3 linked regions of the Homo sapiens genome follow. The protein of the gene in region 2 interacts with the protein of the main gene of each other region in a pairwise test. Each region holds a gene or a part of one and is shown on either strand. Other genes may lie near its edges.

What was found.
Region 1: the proteins of ATXN1 (region 2) and LCA5L interact in binary tests that used the Homo sapiens proteins (3 or more experiments, as listed by UniProt).
Region 3: the proteins of ATXN1 (region 2) and TBX22 interact in binary tests that used the Homo sapiens proteins (3 or more experiments, as listed by UniProt).

The regions. Positions count from the first base shown.
Region 1 is NC_000021.9:39,407,779-39,414,807, reverse strand, and holds part of LCA5L (lebercilin-like protein), read left to right. Parts: intron 1-761; coding exon of another isoform or gene 762-1,004; exon of another isoform or gene 1,005-1,284; intron 1,285-3,005; coding exon 3,006-3,090; intron 3,091-3,870; exon of another isoform or gene 3,871-3,964; intron 3,965-4,440; coding exon 4,441-4,544; intron 4,545-4,711; coding exon 4,712-4,829; intron 4,830-6,130; exon of another isoform or gene 6,131-6,202; intron 6,203-6,890; exon of another isoform or gene 6,891-7,015; intron 7,016-7,029.
Region 2 is NC_000006.12:16,758,436-16,765,739, forward strand, and holds the start of ATXN1 (ataxin-1), read right to left. Parts: upstream 3,026-7,304; 5' UTR 2,863-3,025; intron 2,732-2,862; exon of another isoform or gene 2,703-2,731; intron 1,750-2,702; exon of another isoform or gene 1,622-1,749; intron 1-1,621. UniProt on the Homo sapiens protein: Chromatin-binding factor that repress Notch signaling in the absence of Notch intracellular domain by acting as a CBF1 corepressor. Binds to the HEY promoter and might assist, along with NCOR2, RBPJ-mediated repression. Binds RNA in vitro.
Region 3 is NC_000023.11:80,010,873-80,017,752, reverse strand, and holds the start of TBX22 (T-box transcription factor TBX22), read right to left. Parts: upstream 3,001-6,880; 5' UTR 2,866-3,000; intron 1-2,865. UniProt on the Homo sapiens protein: Probable transcriptional regulator involved in developmental processes. This is major determinant crucial to palatogenesis.

The sequences.
Region 1 (7,029 bases), on a different chromosome or scaffold from region 2:
AGACAATCACAAAGTAAAATATGCACAGACACACACACACACACACACACACACACACACACACAGAGAGAGAGAGAGAGAGAGAGAGAGAGAGGGAGAGAACCAGACAGATGCAGTACTGCCTTTTATGACCTAGCCTTGGCAGTCACGCAGCATCACTTCTGCCTCACAGCATTTGTCAGGGCAGTCCTAGGCAGTTCAAGCAGTGAACTCCACCTTTTGGTAGCGAGTCACGAGGTTGTTGAAGAGCATATAGGACTAGAAATCTTGTCGTGGGAATTCTAGGAAAATACAGTCTGCCACATTAACGAAAGTCATAGTTTGAGCTTGGAAGAGTCTGGTCCCAAAGGTCAAAAGTTCGTTTCTTTACTTTGAAACTCATTTTCAAAGTCATCCCACACCGAGTTCTAGGCCCACTTCTGCAGTATGAGCCGAAGTAAGAAGAGGGATGTCAGCCTTCCACAGCTCCCACGTGAGGTACTGCCACCCGTCTTACACCCAGGCTACGGTCACACTCCTGCATTAAGACACTGCTTTCTATCTAAGTTCCGGAAGCCATCAATGCTGACCTTAATATGATTCCACACCATGACCCAACTTCCCATTTAACTCTTCCTTGATACCCTTTGTGCTTGCGGGCAGGCTTTGCGCTGAGTATTCCACGAGCATTGCATGAACACTCCCAGCCACGGGTTAGCTTCTTGTTTCCCTTGACTGACTGAACCCAACCACACAAGTATCCCGGGTTGTGTTCCAAACAGGCTGTGTTAGACTTCTGGCCCAGCTCTGTCGTGGTGCCCAACCTGAAGCTCTGCTCCAAGCCGCAAGGAGGACCGTCCTCCAGGTTGCTTCCTTTTGACCCACGCCGCCCCTGTCGCAGCCTCTTGTTGTTGTTCTGTTGTTGCTGTGCCTCCTTCCTGCTCTCGGTTGCTGACCTCCAGGTGTCCAGACCAAATCAAAAGATAGAACTGAATTTTTCAGGTAATCAAAATGTGTCCCTGTAAACATGAAAATGTTTCCTAACCAGTGTGGATGAAAACTCATTCTAAAATGTTTTACACAGTATCCTTCATCTGAAAGCTATTATCCAGAATACACCTGATCAACTTTTCATGGTGATGAACTGTCAGCATTTACTGTTCTTTTGGCTGTTACCACAATAAGAAAAGAGAGATGAACTGTTAACATTTTTGCCTCCAGAAACTTAAATTCTAGAAAAGATTAATATTCTCATGTTTTATCCCTTTGTGTACCTCTGATAATAAACTAATTTTATGATTCAAATGAGTAGAAAATTTACACTGTACAATTCAGGTACAAAAATATGTCATGTTCTTTATTTTCTGTAACTAAGCCATACTTCCTTATGAGCCCCAGTCCCACAAATTAGGGATGAGGATGGCAGTTGGACAAGAAGAAATGGATAAAAGCTTGTCTCAGTCTCTTCTAACTCAAAACAGTCTTATGCTAGGTTGTCTCTTAGACTTGCAGACTTTTTCCTCATCCCTATCTTCTGTCTCAGTGGAGATGGCATCCTGGGCATGAGAGAAAACATATGTGTACTCTTGGTGGAGTGAAAAAGAGGCCTCTGGTCTGTGTTCTGCCCTCTGGCCCCTCTCTAGAGCTGGTTCTCCTGACGAGTGACTAGTCTTAAATCAAATTCCCAGGACCCTGTCTGATGTGTACTGAATGTGGCTGCTAAAACTCCTGGCCTCTTCTCAGTCTGGTCAAATAAATCCTGGTGATTGTCCCCTGCTGACTGTTGATGCAAATGCTCTGAGATGCATCCTCCATCTGATCCCTGGCTAGATTCTCTGTTGCAAAGCCTGTGCTATGGGAGCACCTGGATCTGTAACCTTAAGGACTCCAGGGCAGGTGCAGCTCCCTCCACAGGTCCCACTGGTTGCAAGGGTAAGGGAAGCACAATCTCTGGCCTAGAGAGGGTATTTAGCCCTTTCTAACTTACACTTGGGCAATACCATGTTACTTTAGCTCCATGATGAATGGGGCGGCGGGGGAGGCGCTTTTTAAGGGGCTTGCAATTTTCCTGGACCACGCCAAGGCCTCTTGCACTGAGACTTTCCCAAACCTCAGAGATGTTTCTCACCCCCTGAATATCCCTTGGCCCATAGATTTGACCCTAAGGGGCACAAGGAGACAAGAGCTCTCTCTCCCCGCCCCACCCCCCGTGTGTGTGTGTGTGTGTGCACATGCACGTCTGTCACACTCTGACATCCCTGGGTTCCTTCCTCCTTACTTCATATATGCCCACCTCTCTTAACCATGGTTGTTACTAAAATTCAATGGTCTTGAGTCCAAAGCCTTTCTTGCCTCCTGGTGTACATGTAAGAAGGAGCATTTGATATTTAATAAAAACCCTTTCTTTGTTCCTCAACAAGTTAAGGTTTCAAAATGTCTGTTTTGCCAAGACTCAAAAAAATCAATATGAAATTTAAAATGGAACAATGATACCCTTGTTCTAGGCTTCCCCCCCGGCCCTTGTCTAGACGTAGCCCTGTCTCATAGAACTTTCTATTAGATGGTGGAAATGTTCACCTGTGCCATCCAATACTGTAGTCACTAGTCACACACAGCTGCTGACCGCCTATTGGAAATACAAATAGTGTGGCTGACGACCTAAATTTTAGTTTTACTTTCATTTAAATGAAATCACAACATATAGTTAGTGGCTACTGTAATGCACAGTACAGAAGAATATTTCATAAACTTCAAGGCCCACAGGACAGAAGGAAAACAGTGGACAAGCTGACCTGCAAGGCTCTTCAAAAATACTGTCCCGATCACAATAATGTGTCACTTTGTTTAAAGAGCTAGTACTTTTCGATGTCAGGAATGGTATAGGATGATATGGCCTATTTCTGTTTCTTCTAAAATCTACAGATTTTATTCATAGGATACTGAGCTCATTTAAATTGTTTTTAAAAGAAATCAGGGTTGACAAAAGCAAGCATTTATAGAAAAATTGGTTTTGTGGTTCTTTTTAGGAAAAGGATCGTGAGCTTGAAATTAAAAACATCTATAGTCATCGAATACTTAAAAATTTACATGACACAGAGGACTATCCAAAAGGTATGTTTTAATTACTTTTGCTCAAAATCTATTTTTAAGTATCTAGTCAGATTTTCCTAATTTATATAGACAAAATAATGGATATTTTCAAAAATCACTTCATTAGGCATTAAAATACATTTTGTGATTCTAGAAGAATAACGAGACTGAGATGGTGACATGGCTAGCAAGGAATAGAAATGCTTTCCCGTTCTCCCATCCTCAGCACACCCCTTTATGTCCTTTCTTCAGGTGGAGCAAAAGGATAACTTCAGCTTGAAGCAAAATGTCTGCCAAAAAGTGAACTTTCTAAGTGTATCTGTTAGCCAGTGTATGGCTTTTCAAAATGAACTTTATTGGGGTATACTTGACCTCAATAAAATGCATCCATTTTAAGTGTGCACGCAGCTCAGTGGGTTTTGACAGATGTTTATACCGATGGAGCCACCACCCCAATCAAGATATTGAATATTTCCACCTCCCCAGGAAGTTTCCTCGTGTCCCCTGCAGTCAGTAGTCCCCTACCTCACCCGAGGCAACCACTGACTTTCCTTTGGTCACAATAGCCTAGGTTGTCTGTTCTAGAATTTCATGTAAGTGGAATCCCACAGCTGCACCCTTTTGTATCTGGCTGCTTTTGTTCAGCATAGTGTTTTTGAGATTCATCTATATTGATGCCACTATCATTAGTGTATACCTCTCATTGGTGAGGTCTTCTTTTCTTCAAGAGCACGTGCACTGCTTTCCCCCCAAAATCTCCCAGCAACAGATTCGACTCAGAAGTACCATAGGAATACTCACCTCTGTTTTATTAGAAGAAGTAGCTACATGTTTACTTCCAGATGCAACAACCTCAAATTTCCTTGCCTGCCTTTGTTTGCTTCTGGCTTATAATCTAGAATAATAGAGACAATGAATCAACCGAGGGGTTGTTTAAATGATATAATTTCCTTCACTTTTCAGGAAAGTGCAGTCTAGATTTAGTGGTCATGCGCTTCAGCATGGACAGTCTAACCACTGATAATCAAGAGCTCCGCCACAGGATAGCTCGGTGGCCTGGCCTCTCACAATTACACGTCTACCTTGCTGAATCCCATCCACAAAGGACAGCCTTGTCCTCCAACAGCAACAATGTCTTATCCTAACACCTACTTGTTTTATACTCAAACACTGTGAGGCCCAAAGTAAGACAAAGCAAGGGCCCTGGAGGGAAAAACAGGAAACTAACAAATGCTTATATATATATTGAATATTTAGAAAATACTTAGTATACTTTATTATTACATTGCATAAAAGTTATTTTATGTTTAAAATCAATATTGTATCCAAATGTAAAATATGTTTCTTACATATAATCTACCTGTTCCATAGTTTCTTCAACAAAATCAGTCCAAGCAGACAGAAAAATTTTGCCATTCACAAGTATGAGACACCAGGGAACCCAAAAATCAGATGTTCCACCTTTGACAACTAAGGTACAGCAAATTTGGAATCTTGCAGTGTCTGATTAAACATGTCTTAACAAAAATAGGCTACAGTCACTTGTTCTATGTGAAAAGTATTTGTAGTCATTAGAATAAAATGCAATTTTAAGTTATCTAGACCCCCCAAAATGTGTTTTTGCTGCTTTTCTAAATTACAGGGTAAAAAGGCAACAGGAAACATCGATCATAAAGAAAAATCAACTGAAATAAATCATGAAATTCCTCACTGTGTGAATAAACTACCAAAGCAAGAGGATTCTAAGAGAAAATATGAAGGTAATTTTAACTCTTTAAAGTCTATCTTATCTGATTTCTTTAAAATTGTGAATTACTATATGTGTATATAAAGCACACATAAAACAGCTGGGCATGGCAGCTCGCACCTGTAATCCCAGCACTTTGGGAGGCCAAGGCAGGCAGATCACCTGAGGTCAAGAGTTTGAGACCAGCCTGGCCAACATGGTGAAACCCTATCTCTACTAAAAAATACAAAACTTAACCGCACATGGCGGTATGTGCCTGTAATCCCAGCTACTCAGGAGGCTGAGGCAGGAAAATCGCTTGGACCCAGGAGGCAGAGGTTGCAGTGAGCCAAGATCGTGCCACTGCACTCCAACCTGGGTGACAGAGTGAGACTCTGTCTCAAAAAATTAAAAAAAAAACATAAAACCGTTTCCAGAATTATAATGAAAGGAACACCTATGTACCCAGTAGCCTGCTTAAGAAACAGTGGATGAGTACTCCTTGGAACACCCTTGGGCCCTTCACAATCATATCCCCTCGCCCTGCCCACCAGAAACCACCACCGTCTTGGGTTTTAGGCCAGTCATTCCCTTGCTTTCCCTCACAGCTCCCTGTCTTTATATGTAGCTACATTCGTCTGCTTGGGCTGCCATAAGAAAATACCACAGACTGCCGGTTTAAACAACACTTATTTATTTTCTCATGGTTCTGGAGGCTAGGAAGTCCGAGATCAAGGTTCTAGGCATTTGGCTTCAGTTAAGGCCCTCTTCCTGGCTTTAGATGTCCCGCTTCTCACTATGTCTTCATGTGGCGTTTCCTTAGTGCTCGCACGAGGAGAGTCGGGGAGAGAGCACCAGTGCTCCAGTGTTTCTTTTTATAAGGACACTAATTCCGTCATGAAGGCCCCAACCTTGTGATCTCATTTAACCTTAATTACTTCCTTAAAGACCCAGTCTCCAAATATAGCCATACTGGGGGTTACGGCTTCAACATATGAAATTTGGGAGGAAGGAATACAAACATTCATTTCATAATAGTATCCTTAAATAATATATTCAGCTTTGAAAAACTGAGTAGCAAATTATTCAAATCCAGCTGAGCAAAGGGCAATATTACCACTTTTGAATAAAGACTTCCAGAAAAAGGACCCCAGCTTCAGCTCCCTTGAATATACAAGGGCCCAATCAGTGGGTGAGGTCCTGAATCATCCTGGGAGATAGAAAAACCCTCAGATCCATGGCATCTGGCAGAGCTCTTCTGGGCAGGCCCAAGAGAGCTAGGGCCAAGAGAACGGGCTGCCCAGATTTTCCTATTCTAAGATCACCAAAGCTTACCTTCAGCTCTTGGGAGTAGGTGGAAACAAACTGCTTCTTTGGGTTCCAAGGAGAGTCCTCAGCTGGCCCAGACTGCAGGGTTTGATAGAGAGTACAACACTTCATCAGCCATGGGCAAGACAGGCCAAGGCCCTGGCTCACCTGGTGTTTGGGACCTGGAGGTCTAATGGAGCAGGGGTCCTAGTCTGTCTCCTCATCTCTGGTGTGCAGCTAACATCCTGGGATTGCCCTTCATCATTTCCTGCAGATTCCTGTCACTCCCCTTCTCTACTGGATCTTCTCTTTCCTAAGCCAAGTCCTCCTCTTTCTTGGTAAATTCCATCATGTTTTAAAGAGCACAACCTTCACTAGCTTCTTGTAAATGGGTGCAGGTAAGGTAAATTTGTATACCTCTCATCTGGAAGTGTCATTATTCTGCCCTTACACTTGATTAATACTTGCCTAGATAGGAAACTCTAGGTTGAGGGTCATTTTCCTTTGGAATTTTGAAGATGTGGCTCATTGTTTTCATGTTACATTACCACTCGTGGGAGATCTGGCTGCAGCCCCGCAAGGCTGGGTAAGAGCAACTTCTGAGGAAAGTACATGCATGATGAATGAGTCCCAGAGTTCATTCAGGGCTGCAAATCAGATGTGTTCCCTTAGGCAGCATGGAGAGCCCTTGTTGAACACATTGGGCCTTCAGTAGAGGCCCAAGGGCCTCACCTTAGTTGTAAGGCCAAATAATGTTTAAATAACACAGTAGTTTGACAGAACTCACCGGCAAAGCCACTCTCTCTGTTGCAGTTTGGTGGAAACTGATCGTCAGTTGCAGTTGCACTGTGGTCACTGGTGTGTTTAAATTTTCTGCTTATTTTTCAGTCCATTGTCCTAATTCATAGTGTCCTAGAAAGTGTATC
Region 2 (7,304 bases):
GTCTGGGGAGATGCATTTACATACTGCACCTAGGAAGAACAGCTTGTTGGTCTCCTTTATAAAAGTTGAGTAGCTAGAAGCCTCATTCAGTGTCTCCCATCCAAATGACTGAAAGAAGATGCAATTGAAATAGTGGAGTCTCTCGTCTGGCTTGGGCAGCATAAATGCTGTGCATAAAACACTTGGAGTAGTTCAGGCACAAGACAAACCCACCTGAATGGACGAGGAACACTGTCTGTTGCCATGGCAGCCTGATCTAATTACATGAGTGATCAGGACTGGAGTAAGTGCACCGAAAACCTACACCACTGACAGGCAGCCAGGAGGTTCAGGGGAGCCCTTCAACCTCTGCTTTATGTAGAAGATGGCATTCAAGTCCATTTATTTGCGGAGCTGCTAAAATATTGACTGATGCATGCACAGTGAGAGGGCAATCAGAGGAGATTAAATGCCACAGCGCTAGCCGTTATGGTGCAATCCCTTTCCAAGAGTTCCTGTGCAGGATTTTCTCTTCTCTCTGGTGGTTTCCTCAGACATAAGCTTCACTCCAAAAAAAGCTCAAGTATCAAACTACCTTTACCCATCAAATAAACCGAAGGGTGGGCTTAAGGGGGGCTTCTAGGAACTGCAGCCTCCTAAAAAACCCAAACAGAAATGTCTCAGCTAACACTGTTGAAAAAGTAACTAGCTGTGCCTAAAAATAACCAAGTAACTACCCACTGCTGTGTGCAATATATAACAATGATGTTTAAATATTAAAAACAGCCTGCATTATAAAACACAAATGTCATTGAGATGTGACTACTAGATTGCCAAAGGAGAACTTATTTGCATACACACATTCCCGTGCATGCACGACAGGATGTGCAGGGAGAAAGCCACTGTAAGGCATTAGTTTTTATTCTGTGGGTGTAATAGGGTCTTCTAATTTTGCTAATTGTATCCTGTGGATCTCGCAGGGAAGCTAAGAATCTCTTCGGGGACAGAACCAGTTTGGAGGAGTCCCTACTGCACAGCATACGGTAAACAAAATAAAAATAGCTTGCCTTTCTTGTTAGCCACATCGCGCATTATATAACCAGCTTCTTCCGACTGTTTTTTTTTTTTTTTTTTTTTTTTTTTTGCCCTTACTACTCTTCAGCAATTTCCCTCTTCTCAAATATTTATATTACCCTTTTATCTGTAGGATTATATACCAAGAAAGCAAAACAAAACAGAGCAGCCACGGGCTCGAACCGAATCCCCGCCGTCCTTAGAAACGGATTTTTTTTTGTTTTGTTTTGTTTTCTGGCAGAGTCTCGATCACCACCCTACTTCCACCCCCACTAAGGTTCTTGCTCAATCTCCCTAGAAAACCTGAATTGTTTCATCCCTTTCAGTCAGCCCCCTACGTGGTCTGAAACAAAATGAAAGCACAAGCCACGGAGTTTAAGAAGGCAGCCTGAAGGCGGGGGGCTGAAGAGGGGTCGGGGCGCTGCAGAGTCAGCCAAGTAGCCAAGGAAGGGCCCCCTCCGCGTCGCGACGGCCCTCGCCCCCCGCCCGGCGCGCGCGCGCACAAATACACACACACAGTCACTCACACACTCACTCACACTCACGCCGCGCTCCGACACCGCCTCACCTCTCGCTCCGCCCGTCCGGCCCCCTTCCCTGCCCCCTGCGGGACCGGCCTGCGCGCAGCACTGGAACCACGTAGGAGGAGGCGGCGGCGCCCCCGGGAGTGGCAGAGTCTCCGGCCCGGCCCAGAGTGAACGAGCAGTGGGGCTCCAGGGCGCATCCCAATCCCCGCAGCGCCTCCTCCGCGGCGGCCGCCGCCTCCTCCTCCTTCCCCTCCTCCTGGCTTCATTCACCCTCCCAGCAGCCGCGCAGCCGTTCACTCCCGGCTCAGGGCAGCGCCTGCCGCGGCTCCTCGTCTCCTGCCGCGGGTGCTGGCGGGGGCGCCGGCCCGGACTGGGGCGCTCGCGGGCTCCCGGCTCCGGGCGGCGGCTGCCGCTGCACATGATCAGGAAGCGGCCGCACCAACAGGGCGGCGGTGGCGGCGGCGGCCAGGGCCGTCACCGCCACTCCAGCCGCGCTCCAGGCACCCGCACACCCGCTACCCCCGCGCGGTCCCCGAGGCCACCCCTCTGCGCCCCCCGCCCGGCACCCGGCCGCGCGCAAAGTCCCGTCCCGGCTGCAGGAGCAGTCCCTTCCCCGCCCGCAGCCGCACACCCGGCGAGGCCGGCCCTCCGAGGGGAGACCCCCGCCCCAGGGCGCCGAGGCCGGGCGACCACCCGCGGAGAAGTCCAGCCCTCCGTGAGACCCCCTCTCTCTCACCGCCCTCTCCGGGGAGGAGGAATGGGAAGAGGGCGGCCGGGAAAGGGACCACCCCCCAACCCCAGCCGCCGCCTCCCCCCTGCGCCACCCGGAGGGAGGAGGACATGGCTCTCCGCACTTGCGACCGGACCAGCAGCCGGGGGAGCGGGGCGCCGCCGCCGCTCTCCCCGCCCGCGCCCCCCGCCCGGGCGCGCCCCCTAGCCCGGCGGGCGCCCACCCAGCCCCTGACAGCCCCCCCGCCGGCCGCCCCTGCGCCCAGAGTGGGGGTGTCGGCCCGGGAGCCTGGAGCCGGGGACGGTTGTATGTACACACATACACACACACACACACACACACGCACACACACAGAACACGACGCGTCGATTTCCTTCGCTCCTCTTCCAGCTGTTTTCCGTGCAGCCGATTGGGGTTTTGGGTTTGTTTGCTGGTTGTTGCTTTTGCCCCTCTCGGGAGATCGGGGGAGGAGGGATTTTAATCTAAATAAGGGGAGAAGGGAATGGGGGAGGGGGGAAAGAATCGGAGGAGGAAAAAAAAATAGTCACTTACTGTAAAGTGTAAATGGATCTGGGGTTGCGTGGGGAAGGGGGGGCAGAGGGAGAGAAACAATGTCTTGCGGCTGCTGTTGCTCTGGCTGCTGCTCCACGGGGCTTGTTTTGGATCCCCCTGCAGTGAAACAGGTCCTGTACGGCTCCGCCACTGTAGTAGAAATGATGTCTGCGGTATACTCTGCTCTCTCCTCCTCCTCCTCCTCCTCCTCCTCCCCCTCCTCCCGCTCCCCTCCCCTCCCTCCTCCCTCCGCCCGCCCGCCCTCCCTCCCTCCCTCGCGCTCTCTCGCGCTCGCTCGCTCGCTCGCTCCAGTATGTAAATGTGTAATAGAAGCCAAATATGGAGCAGTTGGCTGCCGCCGCCGCAGCTCAAGGATCCGACTTCATGGGGGTGGGGGGCACCCTCTGGCGGGCGGCCCGGCGAGCCGCACAGAGCACGGCGAGCGCACCGCGCGGCGGCCGGCCCGCGCCCTTAACCCTTCGCTGCGCGCCGCCCGGGGAGGCGGGCACCTTTCCCAAAGAGTGGCTCGGGATGGGGTGCGGGGGAGGGGAGACGCGGACCGGAGGGCAAGGTTCCTTCCAGGTTTGGGAAGGGGGCGGGGAGCTGGGCGATGAGGTAATTTGAGCGGTGACGGGTCGGTCCTCGCGCGCCTCCCTGGGTCCCTGCACCTAGTTGGAGGGGACTGAACGACAACGGGGCGCTACTCAGGCAACCTGGGGGACTCCCCCAAGGGCTGTCAGGCTTCAGCTGGGAGCCGATGCAACACCCCAGCGGGGAGGGGAGGTCGGCCCATTCTAATCCCGACGTGTCCTTGGTCCCAGGCGCTCGGAGCAGCATCTGAGAGGGCTCACTCTGATCATCAGCTGCACGTTAAGCCACAAACCGGCGTCGCTTCGGCGTTCCGGAACCCAGGCCTGGGGGCCGCGGGGATTGCCTCTGCGTGCAACTCCGGAAAGTTTCAAGGGGTCCCCCGACTGCACAGGTACCCTCACCTTTCCTGCCGGCGAACGCTGGCGACCGCCCGACCCTGCCCTCTTTCTCTCTTCGCACGCAGGTCCGGAAATCGGCTTTGATATGGAACTACTCCGCTCTAGCCTGGAAAGGAGACCCGCGCACTCCTCTCGCAGCTAATTTCGGATCATTAATTTAATCGGAAATGAGGTAACCAGTGTAGGAGACAGAGAAAGCAACCGGAGCATCAAATGGCAGTTCTCGAGAATCGACGAGGAACTTAAATCTGGACTCAGGGTTTCAGTGCGGTCTCCGACTCCCACCACCCCGCCCCTCCGCCTGTCTCGCCGCCAGGTGTGACCTCCACGCGAAGGAATCTTCTTCGGATGGGTGCACCTTGCCAACAGGTGTGGCACCTGGAGGACTAGGAGGCGCCTCCAGACTAAGGGCGCTCAGTGCGGCGTTCTTGTTGCAGATGATTCTGGAAGGCCGGTAGGTGTCGGGCGACATTTGACCTTCTTCAGGTGCTTAGAACTAAGTGTCTGGAAACATGATCCTTTCGCGTAAGTTTCTTTCTGAAAGCCACCAATCTTGACTGTAAGCTGTATTTGAGAGATCTTTTGGCTGAGTTTACTTATGACCTAACGGTTAGTCACCAACTGAGGCAGGGCACAGGATGACCAAAAAAAAAGTGTCAGTTTTTACACAACTCTGGCCTGCAAGAGCCTACGTGCTTCATAAATAAAAATAAACATACGAGCGAGGAAGGTGCAGAGCCCCGGAAATATTTTTTTCTCACATTTTTGAAATACCATGCACATATATGTGGCTATTTAAGTATAACTACTAGTGTTCACTCTTACTCATTTCTACAACTTTTTTTTTTCCATTTAAAAATCGATTATTGTTACGGTTTAAACCTCGGGTTGGTCTAAAGTGACATTGTTGGTCTCATTACAGCCTCTAGTGGACAGTTAACATCAGTTTCCTGAAAAGGCTCTGACTGGTTTTGTTTTCGTTGACAAGCTTTGTCAAGGTGAAGGTTAGTACGTAAGAGCATAACCGGGTAAAATGTCCCCTCACCCCTATCCTCACCCCCGCCCCCAACACCCTGCTTGGCAAAGACGACTTCAGAAAGGAGCAGAAGCTTGTTGGCTTTATATAGAAAAGACGTATGCTTTGTGCTGCAGGTATTATTATTACTGGACTGTGAATAAACAGAAAGCTTCTGCTATTCATTTCAGTTTCAGACAGCTTTCATAAAAACTAAATTCATCTCAAATATTTTTATAACAGAAAATATTGGTTGCCATGTTTTTGGCTTAACTGCGATGTTTTTATTCCAACTCATAATCTGCAAACTGTCCAATCCACCTCCACTCTATTTTTAGACATCTTACATTTAGATAATTTTCAGTTAAAAAAAAGCTAATATTGTAATTTTACGTTGGCACAAGCAGTTAATTTACGTGATTTTAACAACCTTAAATTAAAACACATAATTCAGATTACAGTTAGTCAATTAATTTAAATGTTCTCTCAAGGAAGCTAAATATGTATATTACCCAAATGGTAAAAACAATTAATAAGAAATGTGTCATTTACTTTCTTAGCCATTAAGTTTAAAGCCATAAACTGCCACCAAAATCTGTAACTATTTCTTCCTGCAAGATCCAACATAAACACCATACTCATGAAACTGTCTCATTACCTTTAGTACTGAAATATTTTGTTTTCAGATGGCAAAATATTAAGTGTACAATCACAAATAACAGGCACTGATTCTTTAGAAACAAGACTTTCTCGTGCAAATAAAAACTCAATGAAAAAGGGCAGAGCTTCCAAGAAGCTAGTAGACAAATATATAGTACTATAGTCCTACTCATAAGGCTGGTGTTATGTTTGTAAAAGCATAAGTCAACCTTTGAAATTACAGGAAATCGATAAATAAGGCCTGATGAGCTTGACTCGTATCCTGTGTCATAGATTGCTTAAATACCATGAAAAATAATTGTAATCACATATCTATTTTACTGTTTTGGTGGTATCTACTCTTGAAGGTGTTAAATGGGCCAGCAAGTATATATTATATAATTACATATTACACCCTTACTTAAAGTGTAGTTTTCAAAGTCGCCACAGCAGCACTTGGGAGCTTTTTAGACATTCAGAGTCAAGGGTTCTACCCCAGACATACCAAATCAGAATCTGCCTTTGAACCAGGCCCCTGGGTGATTTCTAAACACATTATCATGTGAAGAACACTGGTCTATACCACAGGGATCAACCTAAATAAATTTGGGCACAAGTGCAGAAGTTAATTCCTCTATTTATTTCTTTTTTGCTCCTTTTTAGTAAGTACAGCCCTTATTAATTTGTGCTTTTCAATGAAAAATTATTATGTTATATGCTTTGGATAAATACTACTGCACTGTAAGTGCACACATCTGCATCATTATTGCCAAAAAAGAATGCTCTGCTGAGGAATGTACTGGGGTCTTGAACATGAACATTTTCTTCATGGCAGCAGAGGGAGCACAAGAGTGCTTAATAAAACCAGTGCACAGGTCTCTCCAAATCATGACAGATTTTACATTGTAGTATATGTTTTCATTGGAAGTAGCCTGTTATGTAGTTCAAAATGAAGCAAATCAACTGAGCAAACACAGATAGGCTTACCAGGTCATAACAACTATGTAACTGAACAGATTGAAAGTTGAATAAAATAAAGATAAACTTCTTTAGAGTTTTAGGCTTGAATTCTTAAAAGAAAGTGGACCTCAAAAGTGAAAAAGATGCCTTAGCTTTGCTCAAAAACAAAGATAACACAACACAGAATCAGGCAACCCTAAGATGCCTTAGCTTTACTCAAAAACAAAGATAACACAGAATCAGGCAACCCTAATAGTAGCTCCTGTTTATCTAAAAACAGAGTCAGTTCACTGGACCCTACATCAGGTAACTTAATTTCATTTGGTGTCATACATGTTGGTTAAGGTCCATGCGCCTTTTGCTGTGTTTACACTCAGAATAATTTTAGGGGTTTCTCCTTAATGCTTGCAGTGGTGAGGATTTAGGTTTCAGTTATACCTACGTAGTATTTCATACTTTTCACTACTCTTCCATATTGCATCCTCAAAAACTCCCTTGAAGCAGATAACATACTTGGTAAAAGCCAAGTATCCAAAAAGTTATGGAACCACATCGTGCTTTCATAACATTGAGTCATTTAATTGTTTCAGTAGTGCTTTGAGGTATTCATAAATGAGGGAAATTATACAGACTAAAGATCCAGAGCATTTTTTACAGTTTTAAAGGTTTTTCAAAGTTATTCTTAGATAATATGTTTATATATTTATTATTTATTTACAAGCAGTCACTTACTCTGCATCTACAATAACTAAGACTTGAGAATATAAAATTGAGTAAGACATCTTAGTGTGCAAGGAGATCAGAGCAGAACAGATCTTACCTTTGGAAAACTGTTAATT
Region 3 (6,880 bases), on a different chromosome or scaffold from region 2:
ATAGAATTTTTAAAAATTTCCTAGGAAATTTGCCACCAGAATTATGGGGACAATTTTGTACGTGGCTAATTTTGAGCAGGATAAATGAATAAACGAAAAAGAAAAAACCTTTTTGAAAGTCCAAATGTAATTCTACCCTATGGTGATTCTAGTAATTGCCAGAAGAGGCATTGTATGGTCACCTTTCAGCTGTCTTTGACTTCCTGGAGCAGTGAAAATAATAAATAATTATAAATGCATCCTGTCTCTTTTAGTCCTCAAACACTCTCCATTAAAACATTGAGCTTAAGGCCAGGTATATGGGCTCACACTTGTAATCTCAGTGCTTTGGGAGGCTGAGGGAAAAGGATAGCTTGAGTCCAGGAGTTCGAGATCATCCTGGGCAACATAGCAAGATCCTGTCTCTACAAAACCTAATGAACAAAATTAAAGAAAACACACACACACACACACACACACACACACACACACAAAAACAACACCAAACTAGTGTCAAACCTATTCCTTTTTATGTTACCTCTCTGGTGCTCCATTGGCACTTGCACAGTCATATATTAACTGAAGGCTCAATCAGGACTGCTGGACATAATATTTTTTCATGGGTAGAGTTTGTGCTATGTGAATTTTTAGGTTAGGTCATTTTAACTTGGGTATTATGCCTTATACATTTCTTTTACCTACTCCACCCCCATCTTTCCTCTTTCCTTTTCTTTGTTTTTTTTCATGCTTTTTTTTTTTTTTTTTTTTGAGACAGAATCTCCCTCTGTTGCCCAGGCTGGAGTGCAATGGCACAATCTCAGCTCACTGCAACCTCTGCCCCCCAGCTTCAGGTGATTCTCCTGCCTCAGCCTCCTGAGTAGCTGGGATTACAGGCGTGTTCAACCACGCCCAACTAATTTTTGTATTTTTAGTAGAGACGGGGTTTCACCATGTTGGCCAGGCTGGTCTTGAACTCCTGACCTCAGGTGATCTGCCTGCCTCAGCCTCCCAAAGTGCTGGGATTACAGGCTTGAGCCACCGCACCTGGCATCATGCTGCCTTTTTAAAAATGAGGATGAGAGTCAGAGTTACCTCCAAATATGCTATATGCATCAGCCTCAAAGAAAGTGGGCTAGGATTTGAAAAATGACTGCAGGTGCCAGTTTGATATTTTAAAATAAATAATTCAGACATATAGCAAAATATCACTGGCTCAGATCACTTGAACGGAGATATGCCAAGTTAATTGCATCAATGAATTATTGAAAAAAAATACTGTTTATGAGGAATTATTTTATCTTCCTAAAACTAGAAAAATGCTTGCTTTACACCCTCTTCCCCTACACACGCTTTCTCACCAAATGACTCCACTCAGTTCTCAGATCAGTGAGTCATCATCTGGCTCTGCCTAATTTGGGCAGCCATGAGCCCAACAGAAGCAGATCCTTCTGTTAAGAAAGAAATCATCCTGAACTCCATTGGGCCCACCAAATCTCGTGCTAATCTTTTCACTATTTACTTACTCCTGGATATTTACAATATATTTTCCTCTTCTTAACTTGGCACCCTACCTCATCATTCCTAGGACATGCGAATAAGGTACTAAAGGCTTCTTTCCATATTCTCATAATTATCTGTATTTAATCAGGGCTTTTCAATACCTAACAACCACAGATGTACTGACACTCAAAAATATTTGGTAGTAGGCTGAGGGATTTTCCCTAAGTCTATCAAAACACCAAATATAGGCAAACACCTATACTGCCTGTGCTTGAAGCCAATCTATGCCTTCTTTCATACACTGTCTTCCTTCCCAGGGTCCCCACATTAATATTACTAGAGAAAAAACTGCTCCTTCATGAAGTAAATATTTGTAGTTAGTAAACCCTGATCAATGCTCCGAGGGGCAAAAGGGAAGGTTTTAATAATTAAGAAATAAAGACAAATTTTAAAAAATACAAAAGAGAAATCACAGAAAACAATAAGGTCTTCATGGAGATAAGTCTGCTGAACTGAAACAAAGCAACCATATCACCACCCTACAGCAAACTCCTTGACATGCCTTTTATGGCCAGGTGCTTTCTGTAGTCCCCTTCTCTAGTTTGAAGGCATGTGTGTGTGTGTGGTATGTGTGCTTGTGTGTTTGTGTTACAATGCGGTGTATGAGCTCAAGCTCTGGTAAGAAAAATCAGGAATAAGTAAAATAAAACAATCTTTTTTGGCACACTTTGATGTTCCCTCTCTCACCCCAATGCCCATGCTTTGGGACTTCAGACCTCCTCCTGAAATCAAATGAGTGCAAAGAAGATCAAATAATCCTTCTGCCTCTGTGGATCTAGAGCTCCTTGGGGAAGAGCCTCGGTAGAAAGTACCACTACTTAGAGCCCTTGGCTAGGGCCACTTTTCAGTGTTAGACACCTGCCACTCAGCTCAGTGACTTCCACGTTGGCTTCAGTCCTCACCTTCCAGGAGGCACTCCCGTCCCTTCCCCTTGCTCCCTAGCTCCCTAAACAAGATCTGTGAGCACTAATGCATAGTATCCTGGGCCTGGGAGCCTTCTGGCTGCATTGCTGCCTAGGAGAGGGACTATTGCTGGCTTCTTTGGGTATTACAGCATACTCTTAACAGACTGGACAAGTCTAGCCTTCATTAATTTTAAAGAGCACTAATATTCTACTTCCAGTCCCCCGAGAAGTAGTGATTGCAAGATCTCTGTCACAAAACCCCCAGTTAATGAAAGATGAAACTGACAGTTATCAGTTGGACTTTCCTAATGTTAGGGACTTGGTTAGTGATAGTTAACAGGAGAGGAAGAGGCTGAGGAGAATCCCTGTACTGATGTCCCACTAAAACCCATAACATGGTCAGTAAGGCAGAGGTATTTACCTGGAAGGCAAGAAGCAGTGTGTTGCTGTGTCAAGAGGCCAGGCCAGCCCAGTGGTTCTGAAGTCAAGTCTCAGTCAGAGCTCATTCACTCTGCAAATGCCTGCAGCAGCTCTTCTCAAGAGCCCAGAGAAGAGTGGCCTAGAGCCAGAGCACAAGAGAACGTGGTGTTCTGGCCCTCAGCTGTGGGAGAGGCACTTGCTACTTCCGGGGTTGGACTCCAGCAACTTCTCCCACAGAAGACCTGCTGTTACTCAAGGTTGGCCATGAAGTCACAATGACAGTCTGTGATTTCAGCTTTCAGAGCCTCAAGGCTGCAGGCACCCTGCATCCTACCTCAGCCTCCCGGTTGCAACCATACCTGGCTGCATCCTGCTCTGAGCTACAGGCTAATGCACTTGGGAAAAAATGCCTTTGAAGCAGGAGTGGATTGACTTTACAAGTCTAGTCAGCTCATTTCCATGCCCAGCAGGAGCACTTGCAGTTGGAAAACACTTTTCAATCCTCAATCAACAACAGCAGCTCAGAAGCTCCACTCAAGGGGTTCAGCTCTGGAGTCATCCACTAAGAGACCCATTCAGCCTCAGGCAGTGATTCCCAGGCAGTGTAGAGACTCTCAGTGGCCAGGATCCCCCTCTCAGTCTGCAAGCGCCACATAAACAAAACTTTACACCTCCTAAAGGAAAGATCCAACACACACACATATACACACACACACACACACAATTTAATGCACAGCGAATCCCAGAAATGTCTTGGCTGACACATTTTTCTGCTGCAAAATAGAACATGTTTGATTTTTACTTGTTGGTTTATTTCTCCAGGGCAGCTCAGAGAGAATCGAAAAGGGCTTAAGGCCCTAAGTCAGAAGAATTTACTAGCAATAAGTGATCCATAGGTACTTGAAAAATCAATGCTCATTTTATCCTCTAGTGAAGAGGCTCTCATAGAAGAGAAGACAGATTCTGGATTAGTGCGGTTTAATTGGACGAATTCTATAGCTTTTAAATTTATTTTCTCCATTGCAGAGAGCACCATACCTTTCAAGTAATGCAGGAAACCCCAGCTACCCCGCATTGGGCTACCACACCGCAGTGCCATGGATAACTAGGAAGGACCCAGGGGATTTCCCAAATAAAACCCCTGAAGCAGATAATGCCTGTTATAACCCTGCCTGAAAAACCAGAGGCCAAGGAGGACCACGCATTTCTTATCAATACTGAATGCCAAATAGTGACGGTGATATTTCTGATGGGTTTATAAATGCATTCCGGTGTTCCTGAGATTTGCAGCTCACAGTCAACCACACAAAAACTCAAGGGATTATTTTTTAATTTTTAAATTTATTTTACTATCTCATGTGAAAGTTTTAAATGTCTGAAGAGGACTACAGTCTCTCTAAAGTATTTTTCCTGGCAAATATTTTCCCTTCTTTCAAGAAAAGTAAAATAGTGATTGTATTTTATTTTATTTTAGACTTTCCCCTTTACTTTATCTTGATTTTCAAGTTAAAAAGTGTCACAGTAATAAGTTTCAGCCATTTTTGAAGATAACTCAGAGACAGGATTTTCCAAGAATCCTTCTACACCCACTGAAAGAAGAATGTGTTTGTGTCTTCGCGCTCCTGTGTGTTTGTTTAGGGAGAGAAGGTTGCAAATAAGAACAGCATGTGAGCCCATCCATAGAACTATGTGCATTTTGAAACACGACAAATCTGTTTCTGTTCCTTGTTTAATGTCGGGAAATGTGTTTCCTGTCGTAATTGGGGCTGTTCACTTTTGGTGATATTTAAAACGGGCCCAACAGAGACAAGTTGATGTTTGGTTAACCACGAAGGAAATGGCTTTTGATCAAGCAGGCAATTACTAACCAAATCTGGTAACTTCACAAGCAAAACAAAGGAATTTGTTAACTAAGTTTTCTTCTACAGTAATGCGCAAGGCAATTATTTATGAATGAAAGAGAGTTTTCCGTGCCGGTGAGCAATAGACAGTGAGGAGTGAGCCACCAGGACTAGACTCTCATCACAAAACATCATTTCCAAACTCAGGGCAGGAGTGCCCTTTTTATGTCGCTGGGTGTGTATATGCGGGAAGAAGGCTAAGTGCAAGTGGCAGCATAATCCTGAGGTGGCAAGGTCTCCGCCTGCTGTAGCAGAAGAGGCTTGTGGCTACGTCATAAATAATCCTATCCAGGCAACTCAGGAAACAGTGTCTTTCTTCCCATCTCCACTCCCCTCTGTGAGCTCTGCAGTGCTCCGTTTCAGGGCCATGACGGCCGGGGGAAACTTCACTTCTGGCCTTTGGGGAGAGGGCTTTTGAGAGACCAGGCTCTGACGCTCCGCAGAATCAGGTAGTTAGCCAGGGACAAGTGTTGCCAAAAACTCAATTCAACATGATTACATGTGAAGGGCTAGATGTATACTGCCTGGGTAGACGCAGCAGTGCGGTCTGCTGGGGGCAAATTTTGGCATTCCAAAGAGGCTCATCTTGTCTCATGACCTTAGCAGGTGCACTTAATTCCTGGTGGCTCCTACAAAGTCGTACCCGAGGAAGCAGCCCAATAGAAGAGAACAAGGGCTTGGCTTCTCAAGATTCAGGAGACTTTGACAGAGTTCTGGGGCGATACCACTCACAGGTGTGAGGCCTCCAACAATAACCACTACCTCTTTCTTTCTTTCTTTCTTTCTTTCTTTCTTTCTTTCTTTCTTTCTTTCTTTCTTTCTTTCTTTCTCTTCTTTCTCTTTCTTCCTTCTTTCTTTCTTTTCTTTCATTCTTTCTGTCTTTCTCTTTCTTTTTTTAAGCTTGCTATCTTGCTACATGTTAACTCTTAATCCTCATGTTGCTACATGTTAACTCTTAAACCTCACAGCAGCAACAATAACAAATCAGGTAGGTAACTTCATTCTTCCATTATCCGCCTCAAGTAATCGAGATTTAAGAGAGCACATTAGTGGTGGAGCTAGCTGCCAATCTCCAGTGCTGTGGTGACTCTACAAGACCACTGCTCAGGGATCAGCAAGTAAGGAATTTTAAACCGTCTGCCATCATTCCAATAGCCTGCTCCTGCCCCAAGTCCCTGCGGTGATTATCAGAGGGCCCAGGGGCAAAAACCCGACTGCAGCTTCTTGCAGCCAGCATAAGCTATCCTATTTTGCATGTTCCTTTGTCTCCTTGGTGCTACTCTTGGAACAAACCAGAACTTCCCAGCAGTTTGCGGAGCGGGCGCCTTCTGGGCAGAGCCAGATACCTAGCTTTCTTCCAGCCAAGCGTACCTCACAGGACCTTTGCTGCTGTAGAGCTTGAATCTTGACTTAGTAATTTAGGTCGCGAATGGCTGCTCTGGGCGCCAAGATGTGCTCAAAAGTTTGGGGTGAGGTTGCTGCACTCATCAGGGACTCCAAAAGCACTTTCCTGTGATAGTAAAGCTCTGTCTGGGTCAAACAGGCCGTTTTACAAACACTTTAGAAAGTCAAAGCACAAGTGCCATTTTCCGGTGCTCCTCTGAATCCCTATTACCCAGTTATATCATCCGACCTGTGATTCAGCTTCCCAGTATCTTCCTGGACCAGCATGACCTTTGAAAGACCATGATCCAGGGCGCCATCGATTTATTAAAAACACTATTTTGTGAGAAGCCAAGAAGTTTCTGATATTATTCCCCTTGCCGGAATGTAACAAAATGCCACTCATATTTTTAAATTGGGAGAGTTTAGGCGGTTTATTTTTTACCATCCATAGAAAAAAAATATTGGACATGATTAATGGATAATTGTTGGCTAGAATTTCAGACAGCATTCTCTCTCTTACTTAGCATAATTGCTTAACTGTGTCCAGATTTGCCAGTTACCTCTATTTAAAAAAATACAAGTGGCCAGCTCCAGGGGCAATTAGCACATCATCACCTAGGGAGCCCAATGAGATAACTTTGGATATTAACTTGCAAACAATTATTAATTTAATGAATTTACACATATATGTTAGCCTAAGAATAATCTATTGAACCAGTTACAATAATT